Regions from separate parts of the Homo sapiens genome. Here regions 1 and 2 are each linked to region 3. The links come from fine-mapping of genetic effects on gene expression. A gene starts in region 3. Each other region holds a variant in brackets. All regions are shown on one strand. Distances are from middle to middle.

Region 1 (4,189 bases), 170 kb before region 3:
TTGCCTCGGCAGAGTTCAGACGGAGTCACCGCCATAAATATAACTCTGCACCAGGAAGCCTCCAAGATTCTCTCGGGCTCCATGGGAGAAGAAAATCAGGTCTCCGGAATCCACAGGATGATCACTTCAAGGGAGCTGCTCGTGGTGCCTCAGATTTTAATGAACATTCATTTTTTTGAGAAGCTAAATCAACTAAGTGCGAGACTCTGAACAGGTCGAGTTGCTTTTCTAGGCTTCTGTTTTTTCATATGTAGAACAAGAGAACTGAACTAGATTTACAATGACTAGAACTAGATATTAGCATACTTTCCACCTTAGGAACTTTCTGATATTTAACTCAGGTATCAAAGAGCCAAACGGACCCACCCCATTCACATAAGGCTGAAATAAAAGTCTCTCTAGTCAGTGGGGTGAGATGGTGTGTGGATGTGAGTGGAACCCGTGGAGCATGTTTGCCTCCATTTGATGGTGCTTCTTGAACCTCAGGCCTGAACCCTTGGAGCCAAAAAAGATCAGGACTTGAAGAGCACTTGGAAGGGACACCACACCTGGGTCTACAGCCTAAACACTCACTTCCCATGCACTGTGTGCTGTCAGTGATGGGCATGGTTAGGAAGCAGGCCCTGGAACGGACGGAGTGGGCTCTTGTCTGCAGACAAGCGTGGTCTAGCAGGTCAGGAAGAGACAGTGCCATCCCAGTAGCTTACCATCTTTTAAAACTCCTTAGTTCTATTTTTTAAAATGTTTCCCAGGGGGAGAAAAATGAACACCTCTGTAATAAAACAAAAAACAAAAAACAAAAAAAAACAGTAGTCATAATAATGAGAAAAGCCAAATAAGCACATGTAAGTGCATTTTTTTTCTTCGAGATTTATTTTTTGTTTGATGAATCTGACACCAGTCAGGGAGAGGAGAATGTTGTGACCCAGCAGAAAAATATGGCCCCAGAGGAGGGGCGGCTTCTTCCTGCCTGGGTGGGTTTGGTGCTGGGGTTGATTTGTTATTATTTTTTAATTTGTTGCTGGAAGGTTTTCTTTTGTTTACTTTTATAAATCTCTCCCCGGGCTTGCGAGCTTCCCCTCCCTCCCGCCTCCCCTTCCCCTGCCCCCAAATTTCATTTTTAAAAAGCGAGCTTGCTCGCCAGGTGTGTCCCCCAAGCTCTCACAGCTCTAATAAATAAGGAGCACCTGTAAAACAGTAGCTTGACTTGTGAAGTGACTCTGTACAAAGGAGAATCTAGAAATACAGTATGTACACCGCATCCTTGGGCCGTGGTGCTTCAAGGCTGGCGCCACACCGTCCTGGCCCTGCCCACCCGCAACTCGCCACCCCTCCTGCTGAGGCTCCGCGGCCTTGTGGGGCGGGGGCACCTGGACCCCTCCAGAGGGAACAATTGCTTTATTTGAGTTAGTAAACAGATACACTGAATCACAAGGTGATTTGATTTTTTTTTTTTTTAGTTTTCTTCCTTTTTTGATTTTTTTCTTAATTTTTTCTCTTCTTTTCTTTTTCTTTTTTTTTCTGTACTCATCAGAATGGGATACTCCACAACTGTCTCACCAACTCAGTGCCAGTACACATGCTCTAGAGGACTTCTGGACTCGCAGCTACAACTGTACAAGTGCACACAAGTGAATCTACCCTGTTATCCTCCACCCACTGATTGAGGATCGAATTGCACATTTCTCTTAACCATGACAGGAGAAAGCAAACAGTGAAACAGAATCATGGGTGATCTTTCTCACTTTCCCTCTTGTTTTCATTGGTTTGTCCATACCATTCTAATTATCATGAAAGGGCTCTGCATATAGAGAGATTGTCTCACTGACTTCCTGGATCACCGAAAACCATCAGGGTTGAAATTTCATCTGAGTCTTTCCTGACGCCCAGCAAATATTCCCCCTCGGATTATTTTACACCTTGAGGGCATTTTGGTCTTCAGTTCAACACTCTTGCTCTGTTCCCAAATGGGGCGCTATTTAGGGGAATTTAAAGAGAAAGCTGAGAAGAATAAACATTTACCGAGTTCTCTTGGCATTCAGTCTCTGAAAAACCACAGTATAAACTATTCATGCTGCTTCTTACATCTGTCAAATCGAAAATTAAAAGCCATAAAAGTGTAACACTGAAAATATGGCATCAAAAAGGATAAAGGTGGCCTTTGTAAAAATAACAAGAAAAGTATATTAGCCAATAAAATATTCTAACTCTTCATTTAAAAGTGCATCCCGGGCAGGACAGAGATGACTCTGAAGCATTGGGCCTCCAGGACCACCCCTCTCCGCCATCAAAACGTGAACAATATAGGTCCAAAACCGTACAATGCAAATCACAATTCTTAGTGTAGCAGCAAAACCACAGCAGTTTTTAAAAAGATTAAAAAAAGATTTTTTGTGTTCCAATCCATATCATCTTCCAGCCTCAGTCGCTGAGCCTTGAAGATGGGGCGGGGAGAATACCTACATTGGTCCTTGTGGCTTGTCGGTATTTCGTTTTTTTTAAAAGCCAGGGGTGAAATC[C/T]CTAAGTTCCTCTGGGGAGAAGCAGAGATGGTGGCAGCAGGAAGGCTGGGCCTGCTTGGTGGGTCCAAGATGCGCGGGCTTCTCTGGGCTAGAGGCCATCGAGGGAGGGCTGCTTCCTCTGAGATGCTTAATGACAGGAAGCGGCTTTATTTGCTTGAGTTTTAGCCAGAGGGGGTGGTGAGCTGACCAGCTGGTGTCATTGGATGGCGTGACATGGTTTGCTCTGCGCCCTCTCTCCATGAGCGTACCCTGTGAGTGAACGTTCCTGGAAAAAGAGCAGAAGGGGCTGTCAGAATCCACTGGACCGATCCCCCTCCCTCCGCCCAGCTGGGGAGAACCCAGGCATGAGTCAGACAGCAGCACACTCTCCAGCCGCCAGGGCAGACCTAGGATGAGCCCCAGAACCGCTGCAGCACAGCGTGATTTCAACAGGAGTTTCATTCACGGTCTGCTCAGGTCAGCCCTGCCAGCTTTGTGTGAGGAAATGAAACTCAAGTCGCTTTTTGGAATACCATAATGAGTAGGGTACACCACGCCCTCACCCAAAGACCACAGCATCCTTTGCAACCCAGCAACCCTCCCCCTCCACATGACTGCATGCTTAACCAGCAGGAGGCTTTTTTTTTTTTTTGAGACAGGGTCTCGCTCTGTTGCCCAAGCTGGAGTGCAGTGGTGCAACTGGCTCACTGCAATCTCTGCCTCCCAGTTTCAAGTGATTCTCCTGCCTCAGCCTCCCAAAGTGCTGGGATTACAGGCATGAACCACCGCATCCAGCCCCAGCAGGAGGTCTTTTGAGTCACCCAAGGTCACTCCAAAGCCAGGCAAGGTCACGGAGGACCCTGGAGCTCCTGACCTCACTCCTGTAACCCCATGTCTCAGCTCTGGTATTTGCTGAAAAGAGGGCCAATAGATTCACTTTTTGGCAAGTGGAAAATTACCATGGACACATATACCTATCTTCAGAAGTTTCCCACAAAGGCAACTAAGCTGGAAGAAATGCTTGCTTTTCTCCGTGTGTGGGTCTTGCCTGTAAAAGGTGAGCCATTCACATCTCTTCACATCCAAAACAAACAGTAGCACTGGACTGGAAGAAAATAAATCAACCAAGAGCCTTGGGGTCCCAGGGCAGAGGCTCTGAACAGGATTTTCCACCAGGAAAGTCAGTTTCTGGGGAATGCTCATCCCAACATTCACCGAGATATGAGGCTCTGCCTCTTGATACCTGCAGCCTTCTTTCATTTGCCGCCAGTCACTTGGTTTGAAATAGAGCTTCCTGAGGCCACTCAGTCAGTTCTGGGAGCAGCCACTTAGAAGTCTGCCAACTGCATGGTAAAGCCCCAGAGGTCAGGGGCTTGTCTGTTTTGCTCGTGTCTCTACACCCAACTCGTAGCTCAGAGTCTGGCCCGCTGTGGGCGCTCGACACACTTTGATCACATGAGTGGGTCAGGCGCCTCTCTTCTGCCATGCCCCAAAACAGCACCTTTTCTTCCTGCCAATAAATGAGGCTGTCAGAAATGTGAATGGGTAAAATTTGGCTAAGGTGAGGTGGTGACAGAGGACTTGTAAACATCTTTACAACTGTTGAGATTATTCTTAGAACAATGAACAAATAACTTCAGAGAGGTGATAGAATGTAGGACTTGAAGGGACCCCAGAGATAATACAGTACC
Region 2 (4,189 bases), 180 kb before region 3:
GAGAGCTCCCTAACCTGAGGGATGGCCTACAAGAGATTAATAGCGAACTTGTAGGAAGGAAGGATGCGAAAGCTCACACAGGTCTTTCGTAGCCTTCACAACGTTGGGCAGGAAATGGTTAATCAGGGCCGGCCCTGAGCCTGGACGGCTGCAGGCAGGGAAGGGGCAGCGATTAATTACACTACACAGGAAGTGCAGGCCTCCATCCCTCTGCCCAACGGGGAAATCCATTTTCAATTCTGACCTCAATGTGGAAGTGACTCTTCCTGCCAAAAGGAGAGGAGTACAAGCGTCCCCTCCCCCACAGCACAGCAGAACCAGAAGACAGAACACAGGCAGATGCAGCACCAGGGGTAGGCAAAGCCCAGGCAACGTGCACAGCAGGCAGCTTGATGGAGAAAGTTTTCCTTAGTGGCACCTGATGAGACAACTCTTCCTGTACATGCACTGAAACAGGGAATAGGTACAAAAAAAAAAAACAAAAACCCAAGAAAATGCTACTTGGTATGGAACAGGAATAACAGGAGACACAGACAAGGTCAGCAGAACCTAGAAGGAGAGTCCAGACACACGAGACATTGCCTATAGTTCCATAGCAAGGAGTGCAGCCTGGGCAGCCTGAGACCCTTTCCTTAAAAAAAAAAAATGGTGTTTTTTGTTTTTTCGAGACAGAGTTTTGCTCTGTCACCCAGGCTGCAGTGCAGTGGCACACTCTTGGCTCACTGCAACCTCTGCCTCCCAGGCTCAAGCAATTCTCATGCTTCAGCCTCCTGAATAGCTGGGATTACAGGCATATACCACCACACCCAGCTAATTTTTTGTATTTTTAGTAGAGACGGGGTTTCACCATGTTAGCCAAGCTGGTCTCGAACTCCTGGCCTCAGGTTGATCTACCTGCCTCAGCCTCCCCAAAGTGCTGGGATTACAGACATGAGCCACCGCGCCCAACCAAAAAAGGTTTTTCTAAATTAGTCAGGTATGGTGGCACAGGCCTGTAGTCCCAGCTACTCAGGAGGCTGAAGCAGGAGAATCGCTTGAGCCCGGGAGTTTGAGATTGCAGTGAGCTATTATCATGCCACTGCACTCCAACCTAGGTGACAAAGTGAGAACCCCCATCTCTCTTTTTTTTTTAAAGCAAAGAATAAATGGAAGGCATACCAGAAGCCCACTGCATATTTTTTATCCATATTTTTAATGAAACTAATATATGATTAAAAAAAAACATACATAGTTGCTATTCCATTTTTCTGTTTGTCTAAAGGCCCAAGCTGAAGAACCCCTTGGGGAATGGTTTCAGATAGATCACCTGACCTACGGTTAAGCTCCAGGTTGTGATGCTCAGGGTGGGAAACACGAGGTGAGCTGCACCGTCCTTCCTTCTGCTTTATGGACTGGGGTCTTCGGGGGTTCTGTCTCTGTCTTGGTGTGCGACACGTTTACATGTTCACATACTCTATCGGCCAAGGCCCAGCCAGGAAAACAGAGAGCACCTTAGGCCCTTGCAGCCAGGGGAGCGCAAGGAAGGGAAGGGGGTCCACAGTGATGGAGAGCTGAGAAGCTGGGCAGGGGACAGTGAGAAAACCCTGAGGCTGAAGGAACAAACATAGGAAGACTTCATGGGAGCTGCAGCTCCTAAGGGCTTTCCAGAGGGAACTGAGGAAGGTGGCTGAGGGAGAGAGAGAGGGAGAGAAATCCCATCTCCCATTAGCTGAATACAGCCAGGGTGAGGGCCCTGCCATGTGGAGCAGAGCAGGGAAAGTTGAGAAATGGATCTCAGAGCAAACAGGCCCAGAGCCAGCACACTTGCTATCATCTAACCCTGGAAGCAACCCCAAGAGTAGGTCTCATCATCTCCATGTCACTGAGACAGAAATCAAGCCTTGGAGACATTAAAGACCAATGCGGCCAGCAGCGCACGGCAGGAAGTGGCGGGGCTGAGAGAGAAACTTTGGTCTTCCATCTGCACACCCACACTGTTCATTCTTCCGTGGCCCTACAGCGGTGTGGAGGTGGGGGTGGCTGTTGAGCAGCACGGCA[C/A]TTCCAAGTTGGTTCCACGGTAGCCGTCCTTACCCTCCTGCTCGTTCCTGTGCCAGGAACCACGGTCGGGGTGCCACATGGTGCTCTGGCATGAGAGGAGGCCATCCTGGCCAGGACTGCCAGCCAGGGAGGTGGACTCACAGAGGGCCTCTCCAACCTCTCTGAGCCCCCATTAAAGGCCTCTGTGAGCTCTTCAGAAGGACAGAGCGATGGGCCAACACGAGGCTGTGCCAGCTAATTATTCAGCCCTCCTTCTGCTCCCTGGAAGCCCCAGCCCTGCTGGACGGGCGGCCTTCTGTGTTCCTCGTGTTAGATGGCCTGGTTCCCCTCTCAGAGGGGCTGGTATTTGGTTGATCCTTCAGGCTCCCGTTTGGCTCATAAAACACAAACATCTGCTGGGGTTCTGGTTGGCCTGCGGCAGCCTTCGGAGCGAAGAGGGATGGAGGAGAGGTGAGGAGAGGGAAACGAGGACTCGGGCAGCCTTTCTGGGGGGGTTAATGAGTTACTCTGCGACGTGGGGGGGTGGGGGATGGGCTTTATCAAGCCAGAGCCCTGATCAGCTCCCCAAAGAAGAGAAAGGAGAAGAGAAGAGGATTTTCCCGGGGTTTCTCTGGAAAGTCTGGGGGAGTCTGCGATGCTTTCCTCCATTGCCGCGCTGCCTCCAACTGTTCCATTTCTCACCAGTTGGCTATTATTTTCTAACGCATTTTGATCATTACTTTATCAATCAAGACAGATAAACAAAAGCCTAAAAATACATCTGAGTGAATGCGTTCCCAGAGCCAACCAGTCTTCAGTACTCTGATTTTTGTGACTTTTTTTTCAGAGATGCTTGGGAAACAGTTGAAGGGCTCCATTCCTTATTAATGTGTGGCCCAGTAGAATACACTAACCAACCTCTGCCCTCCTGGCTCAGATGTATAGGGTCAAAGGAATTCAGTTAAGGAAATGGTTATCTAAGCGAAAGAAGGCCCCTTAAAAAACTCGCCTAAAGCCTTTTTCTTATGAGGATGGCTCTTTGCTTTTGATTTGCTTATTAAATCCACAGATGCCTGGGTCAAGAGTTGAGAAAGCCCTTCATGTGGCACCTTTTAAAGAAGTAAAACGGAGAGAGTTGTATTATATCATTGCAACTGTTTAGAAAGAAAAAGTGCCAGTTACTCAATGAATAGAGCTCATATTTCAGAAGCCAAATGCTGTCTAGTTATACCCTGTGAGCGCCTGGACATAAACCCAGCCCATTAACCTCATCTTTATCTCACAGAGTGGCCCCGCCCAGCCAGGCTTATTAAGAGCCTCAAGGGAGAAGCCAATGAGCATGGCATTTGAGAAGAGGCACCAGCCTCAACTCCTGCCTTAGTCCTAATCTAAGATTTTGGAATGAAAAATTCACTGGGGCACATGACCCTCCTGAGCTTCCAGGCTTTTGCACCACGTGCCACCCTACCCCCTTCTCTAGTTTTCATTTCTCAAAGTAATAGTGGTCCCTCCCAGGAGGGGGTCTGGGCCTTCTTTCCCCCAAAGAACGGCACAGGACTAACATATTCAGTGACTTTCCTGACAATCCATGGCAGGTACTGCAGGATATCAGACCTGAAGGAAACCATCCAATTTATAGCTGCTCACGTAAAAGCCATCAGGAGGATCATGAAATGATTCTCCATATGGTGCCCTGAAGCTTCCAAAAACTATACGAGAAAGGGGCTTGGAAGGAATTCTTTCCCTTTTGGAGACAAGGAGGGTCGAAGCCAAGCATCTGTGGCAACCTGGAAAAGACACTCCTCCCCGACACCCACCTCCACTGCATCCCCTGGGGCAGCCCCGAGGATCAGTCCTTGACGGCCCAGGCCCACAGGGTCACTGCCATTGGCCACTTAGGCTTGTCCATTAACCAAGCTTATGTTCTCTAGCATAAATGAACTCTACAGTCACATTGTGTGGAGGCTTCGGGACATGGTTTGCCAAATGGAAAAACATTTGGAGGTTGGGAAAATATCTTGCACATAAATTACTGAAGGCACAGAGAATCTAAAAGAGGGATGGAATCAGAAGCCAAGGAAAAGCCAGGAGGGAGCCAAAGAAAAACGGAGAGAGAGACAGAGACAGGGAAAGCGATGTAATGATTTCTCTTAATGACCCGCCTTCAGACCAA
Region 3 (4,189 bases):
TATAGATCACATTAGGCAGCGTTTTAAAGGGCCAGAGCTCCTTGTGATTTCCTAGTGGCTTTCACCTCTCTCCCCCTTCCCCACCCCCAACCTAAAATGAAATGCAAAAGTAAACTGGAAATGCAGGACAGGAGGTAAGGGTAAGTGAGGAAGAATGGTTATTATGGACTGTTTGAATTTTGTTCCCATCAAAAAACAACAACTTCTACCGGTCTTAAAAAAAATAAAATAAAACTGTCCATCATTGGAATCAACAGTGGTTTCCACCATAAGAAACAGCATTGATTTCCAAGGCAAATCTCCCTTAACTCTCCGTTGGACTCATGCTGCACCTCATGCTTCCAGGTACTAAGTTCCTTATCCAGTAATAAAACCCCTAATTCTGATATTTAGGTTGCTTCTGACATTTCTGAGAAGTAAAGCTAAGCATATGCACCTAGGTACGCATACATATATGATATATATCCATGCGTCCCCTGCTAAGCGTGAGCTATGATAGAAAATGCTTGTTCTAATGAAGAAAGCGTCAAAGCGCAATAAATTTGACTTACTTGCACACCATTTTCATCCAGTTTGTTTTTTAAATACAAACTGAACCAAAACTGGCCAAGTAGTAGTATTAAGCCACCTGGTAGTATTAAGGATTTCATGCAGAAGATGGGGAACACCAAGAAGACCGCAAAATGCAAACCTGCTACTTTTTGATGGCTCGCAGAAAAATAAATAAATTGTTTTATATCAATAGAGACTCGTGAAATCAACACAGAATAAAACCCTCGCCCAGGCAAAAGCCGCAACTTCATGGAAAATAAGGAGGTGGGGGGCAACGAGGGGGTCCAGAGCTGAGCGGTGCTCTTGTGCAATTGCTCTAACGCGAACAGCTGGAGCGCCAGGCTGCTGCGCTCTCCACCTCTGGTGCACCGCTGGCCTGGCGGGGAGCCCAGCCTCGCCGAGAGGACTCCGGGCCGGCCTTAGCGAACAATGGACAGGCGCCCTGCAAAGGCCGCCCCTCAGACAGCTGTCCTCCAGCGGGGCTGGCCGGGGTCTGCTTGGCTGGGAAGTGAGGCAGGCAGAGGCGAGCGGGAGGCGGAGGCTGCCAGTGGTGAGGTGCGGGCGGGGGCGGGCGAGGAGAGCGGTCAGGACCGTGCCCAGACCCGCGCCTCTCGGGCCGCAGCTCGCCGGGCACTGACGGGCTCTTCACGCCGTCGCAGCTGGTTGGTTGGGGGGAAGCGGGATTGAGGAGCAGGAGGGTGAGCTGGGGGAGAGGGGTGGAATAGAGCTCTCTCCGGGGTGCCCCGGCCAGGAGGCTCCTAACTTTGGAGGGACCCTGAGGATGATTCTCAAAAAGGGGGGAGAAACTGCACCGTCCACTGGGAAAGCCTCTTCCCCTGCCCAACGCCGCTCGAGTCCCCGGTGCCCTCGCCCTGAAACGCGTCCGTGCCAACCTGGGATTCGTAAGGTTAAATAGTATGTGGTCCCCCCTCATCAAATCTGAGGTTGGCAACAATTTCGGGGATGCAGCCCTCGAGTTGGCCTCTGCTTTACACCTGGAGGAGGAGCGGAGCCGTTCTGGGCATCCTACAGAAACTGACAAGCGCGCCCCGGTACCCCCCAGATCCATACCACGGCCCACGGGGAGCGGGCGCAAGAAAGAGCTCAGTCTCCCTGGCCCCCGAGATCAAAAAATACCTTCATCTCCTCATTGATCTCCCTTTTCACTGGGTGAGCCGGCTTCCTGCTCCGTTTATTTTCGGGAGGTCTCCCTTCTTTCTCCATTTCTGCCATGTTTTTGTGTCTGGTTTCTGTGGAGATGAAATGGCTGCTGCCGCCGCCGGCGGTGGTGGTGGCGGCGGCGGCGGCGGTGGAGGTGGTGCTGATGGTGGCGAGGCTGGCGGAGGTAGCGGTGCTGGCGGGGCCGGACCGAGCCGCGAGGGGGAGGGCAGGCGCCGAGAAGCGGGGTCTCTTCTAGCGGCGGAGGACGTCAGTGGCTGTCACGGGTAAGGATAGTGCGGAGAGTCTCGGGGATGCCGCCGCCGTCGCTCCGGCTCCTGCTGCCGCCGCCGCCGCCGCCGCAGCCAACGCCGCCGCTGCTGCCGCTGCCCCTGCCGCCCTCGCTGCCGCTGCCGCTCCCGCCGCCGCCGCCGCCGGGCCGCATCCTCGGGGCCCCGTGGAGTCGTCAGCCATCTTCCGTCGCTCGGTCCGTCCGCATGGGCGCGGGGAGCAAGGGCCGGCGCGGAGAGCGGCCCCGGGCGTGCGTGCGCGGCTGTGTGTGAGCCCGGGAGAGCGCGCCAGCCCCGGCGCCCAGCGCCTCCCGCGAGCCGAGCCGGGGGCGGGCCGGGGGCCGGCGCGGGAGGAGGGGAGGGAGCGCGGCCGGGAGGGGGTCGGAGGGAGGGGAAAGGTGGGGGGGGCGAGGACAGCCCCCCGGCTCTCGAGCGGGCGTGGCTTCCACCGTCACTGGATACGCGGATGCTGCGCGGCTCCGGGGGCTGCTCGCAGCCGCCTGTTCATCCGCGGCGGGCACGGGCGGCTCGCGGCGCCCCCCGCGGCCGCCACCTCCCCGCCACACGCCAGGGGCGCCGGCGCCCGCTCGGAACCCAGCCCTGCTTCTCAGCTCCGCGAGGTGGGCTGGGTTGCGTGTGGAGTTGGTTTTTGAGCCCGTCCTAGGAGCCGCTGAGGAAAAATGAATGGGGGTGAAAGGAGAAGGTTGGGCGGCGGGAGGTCGCGAGACCTGAGGTCGCCTGGCTAGAGGGCCGCCGTCCCCCGGGGAGGGTTGACTGAGCCTGCCGCCTCGGGGGTGCAACGCTGGGGTCTCGGGGAAAGGAAACCACAGCCCGGACGAGCTTCCCCCCACTGAGCTGCCAGAATAGTTTCCCCCTCCGGGGGCCACCGCAGAGTGCGCGGAGGCTGGAGACCCCTTGGAGAGGTCCCCGCGCCCCGCCCGGCCGGTCCTCCACGCGGCGCTGCCTCGGACTGCAATGGCAATGAAGCTTTTGCCTCTCAAAGAACTACTTAGAAGTAGGACATCTCGGCCTTCAGCCCCTTCATTTCTTTTTCCCCTTGTTCCTTCTCTCTTTATCTCTCTCTCACTTATGCCCTGCTTCAAAGTAACAGCTTTACGCGTGACCCCGCCTGCACCCTTATCTGGGTGTCCTGGGTTTCGCCCAAAAGGTTGGGCTGAGTGGGAGCTTCTGGGAGCGCACGGTCCCGCGTAGGGTCCCGCTCACCCGGACCCCGAACGCCCTCGCCACGCCCCGGTGGGATCCTCCCCTCCCCGCCTGGTTGCACTTTCTCCTCCCGACTTCCCAGCTAGCGCCTGCCCTCCATGGAGCGGTGCTCGCTCCCTCTGCGCTCACAAGTCCCCTCTTTGGCCCTCTCCTGCCACGCCTGGGGCCGAGGTCTGATTGAGTCTGTCCCTGTCCCTGGGTTGAGGCATTGGGGGTGACGACTGGATGATGTTTCTGTGATACGCGCGGCTCTGAGCGCTCCCACACGTTGCAGAGGACACATTGACGTTCCCGGCTTCTCCTTCCCGCGCCTCGACACTTCATAATTACCTGACACAATGCGATATGGGGGTGTCCATTGTTCCACTGCATGTTACTGTGGAGTGTTCGTTATGACAGTGGTGGAACTTAAAATTACACAATTTTTTTAAGTTCCTAAAAGAATGAATTCCGTGTGGGGATATGAGTAAGCTTTCCATTAAATCTCAGTTTGGCCTGTCAAACGAGGCTCATTCTGGGTATTACATCGCCTAATTTGCATTTTAGCATTGTTTTGTTTCTTAAATGTCACATTAGAGATACATGGGCGTGTACGCAGGAGAGCTGAGTACCTCCACGTTGCCTATTTTGCATTTTAGCATCATTTTGTTTTTAATAAACGCCAACTTAAAAACATCTGGGAGTGCACCCAGGAGGGCTGAGTACCTCCTCCCTCCTGATTTCTTCTCTTCCCCGTCCCGGGGAGGCGAGGGGAAGCTGCACCCTGCTCCCCGTGGCTGCCTAGATCCTGGGCAAGCCAGGAGGCCAGAGCGAGCCAGGCTTTGCGCCTGCAAGGGGTCCGCGCGAGAAACACTTACGCCGAGGAAAAGTTAAAATTCCTGGGACGCCCAAGAGTCAAGAGAGGAAGACTGATGAGGTTTTAGGGGAGCTTTGCAGTACAGGCGTCCTGTATTTGCGATTTTCCC

What was found. PIP is the estimated chance that this variant, and not a neighbour inherited with it, causes the effect.
Region 1: its variant is fine-mapped to the expression of SOBP in whole blood (TOPMed, PIP above 0.99). The same link has a PIP of 0.9 or more in blood mononuclear cells.
Region 2: its variant is fine-mapped to the expression of SOBP in whole blood (TOPMed, PIP above 0.99).

The regions. Positions count from the first base shown.
Region 1 is chr6:107,656,802-107,660,990 of GRCh38, reverse strand. It overlaps SOBP (sine oculis binding protein homolog), which reads right to left. Exons shown (of 7, transcript NM_018013.4): 7 at 1-2,784. Among named protein-coding and RNA genes, the nearest start is that of SCML4, 170 kb to the left of the region's middle. RefSeq lists enhancers at 2,657-2,846, 2,308-2,884, 3,087-3,136, 2,885-3,462. The variant C/T (reference allele first, on the strand shown) is at 2,520.
Region 2 is chr6:107,667,073-107,671,261 of GRCh38, reverse strand. No RefSeq gene overlaps it. Among named protein-coding and RNA genes, the nearest start is that of SCML4, 160 kb to the left of the region's middle. RefSeq lists enhancers at 332-391, 1,755-2,255, 2,256-2,756. The variant C/A (reference allele first, on the strand shown) is at 2,038.
Region 3 is chr6:107,488,213-107,492,401 of GRCh38, reverse strand. SOBP (sine oculis binding protein homolog) reads right to left here and starts at 2,285. Exons shown (of 7, transcript NM_018013.4): 1 at 1,690-2,285. The coding sequence starts at 1,785. RefSeq lists silencers at 1,906-1,965, 2,006-2,055.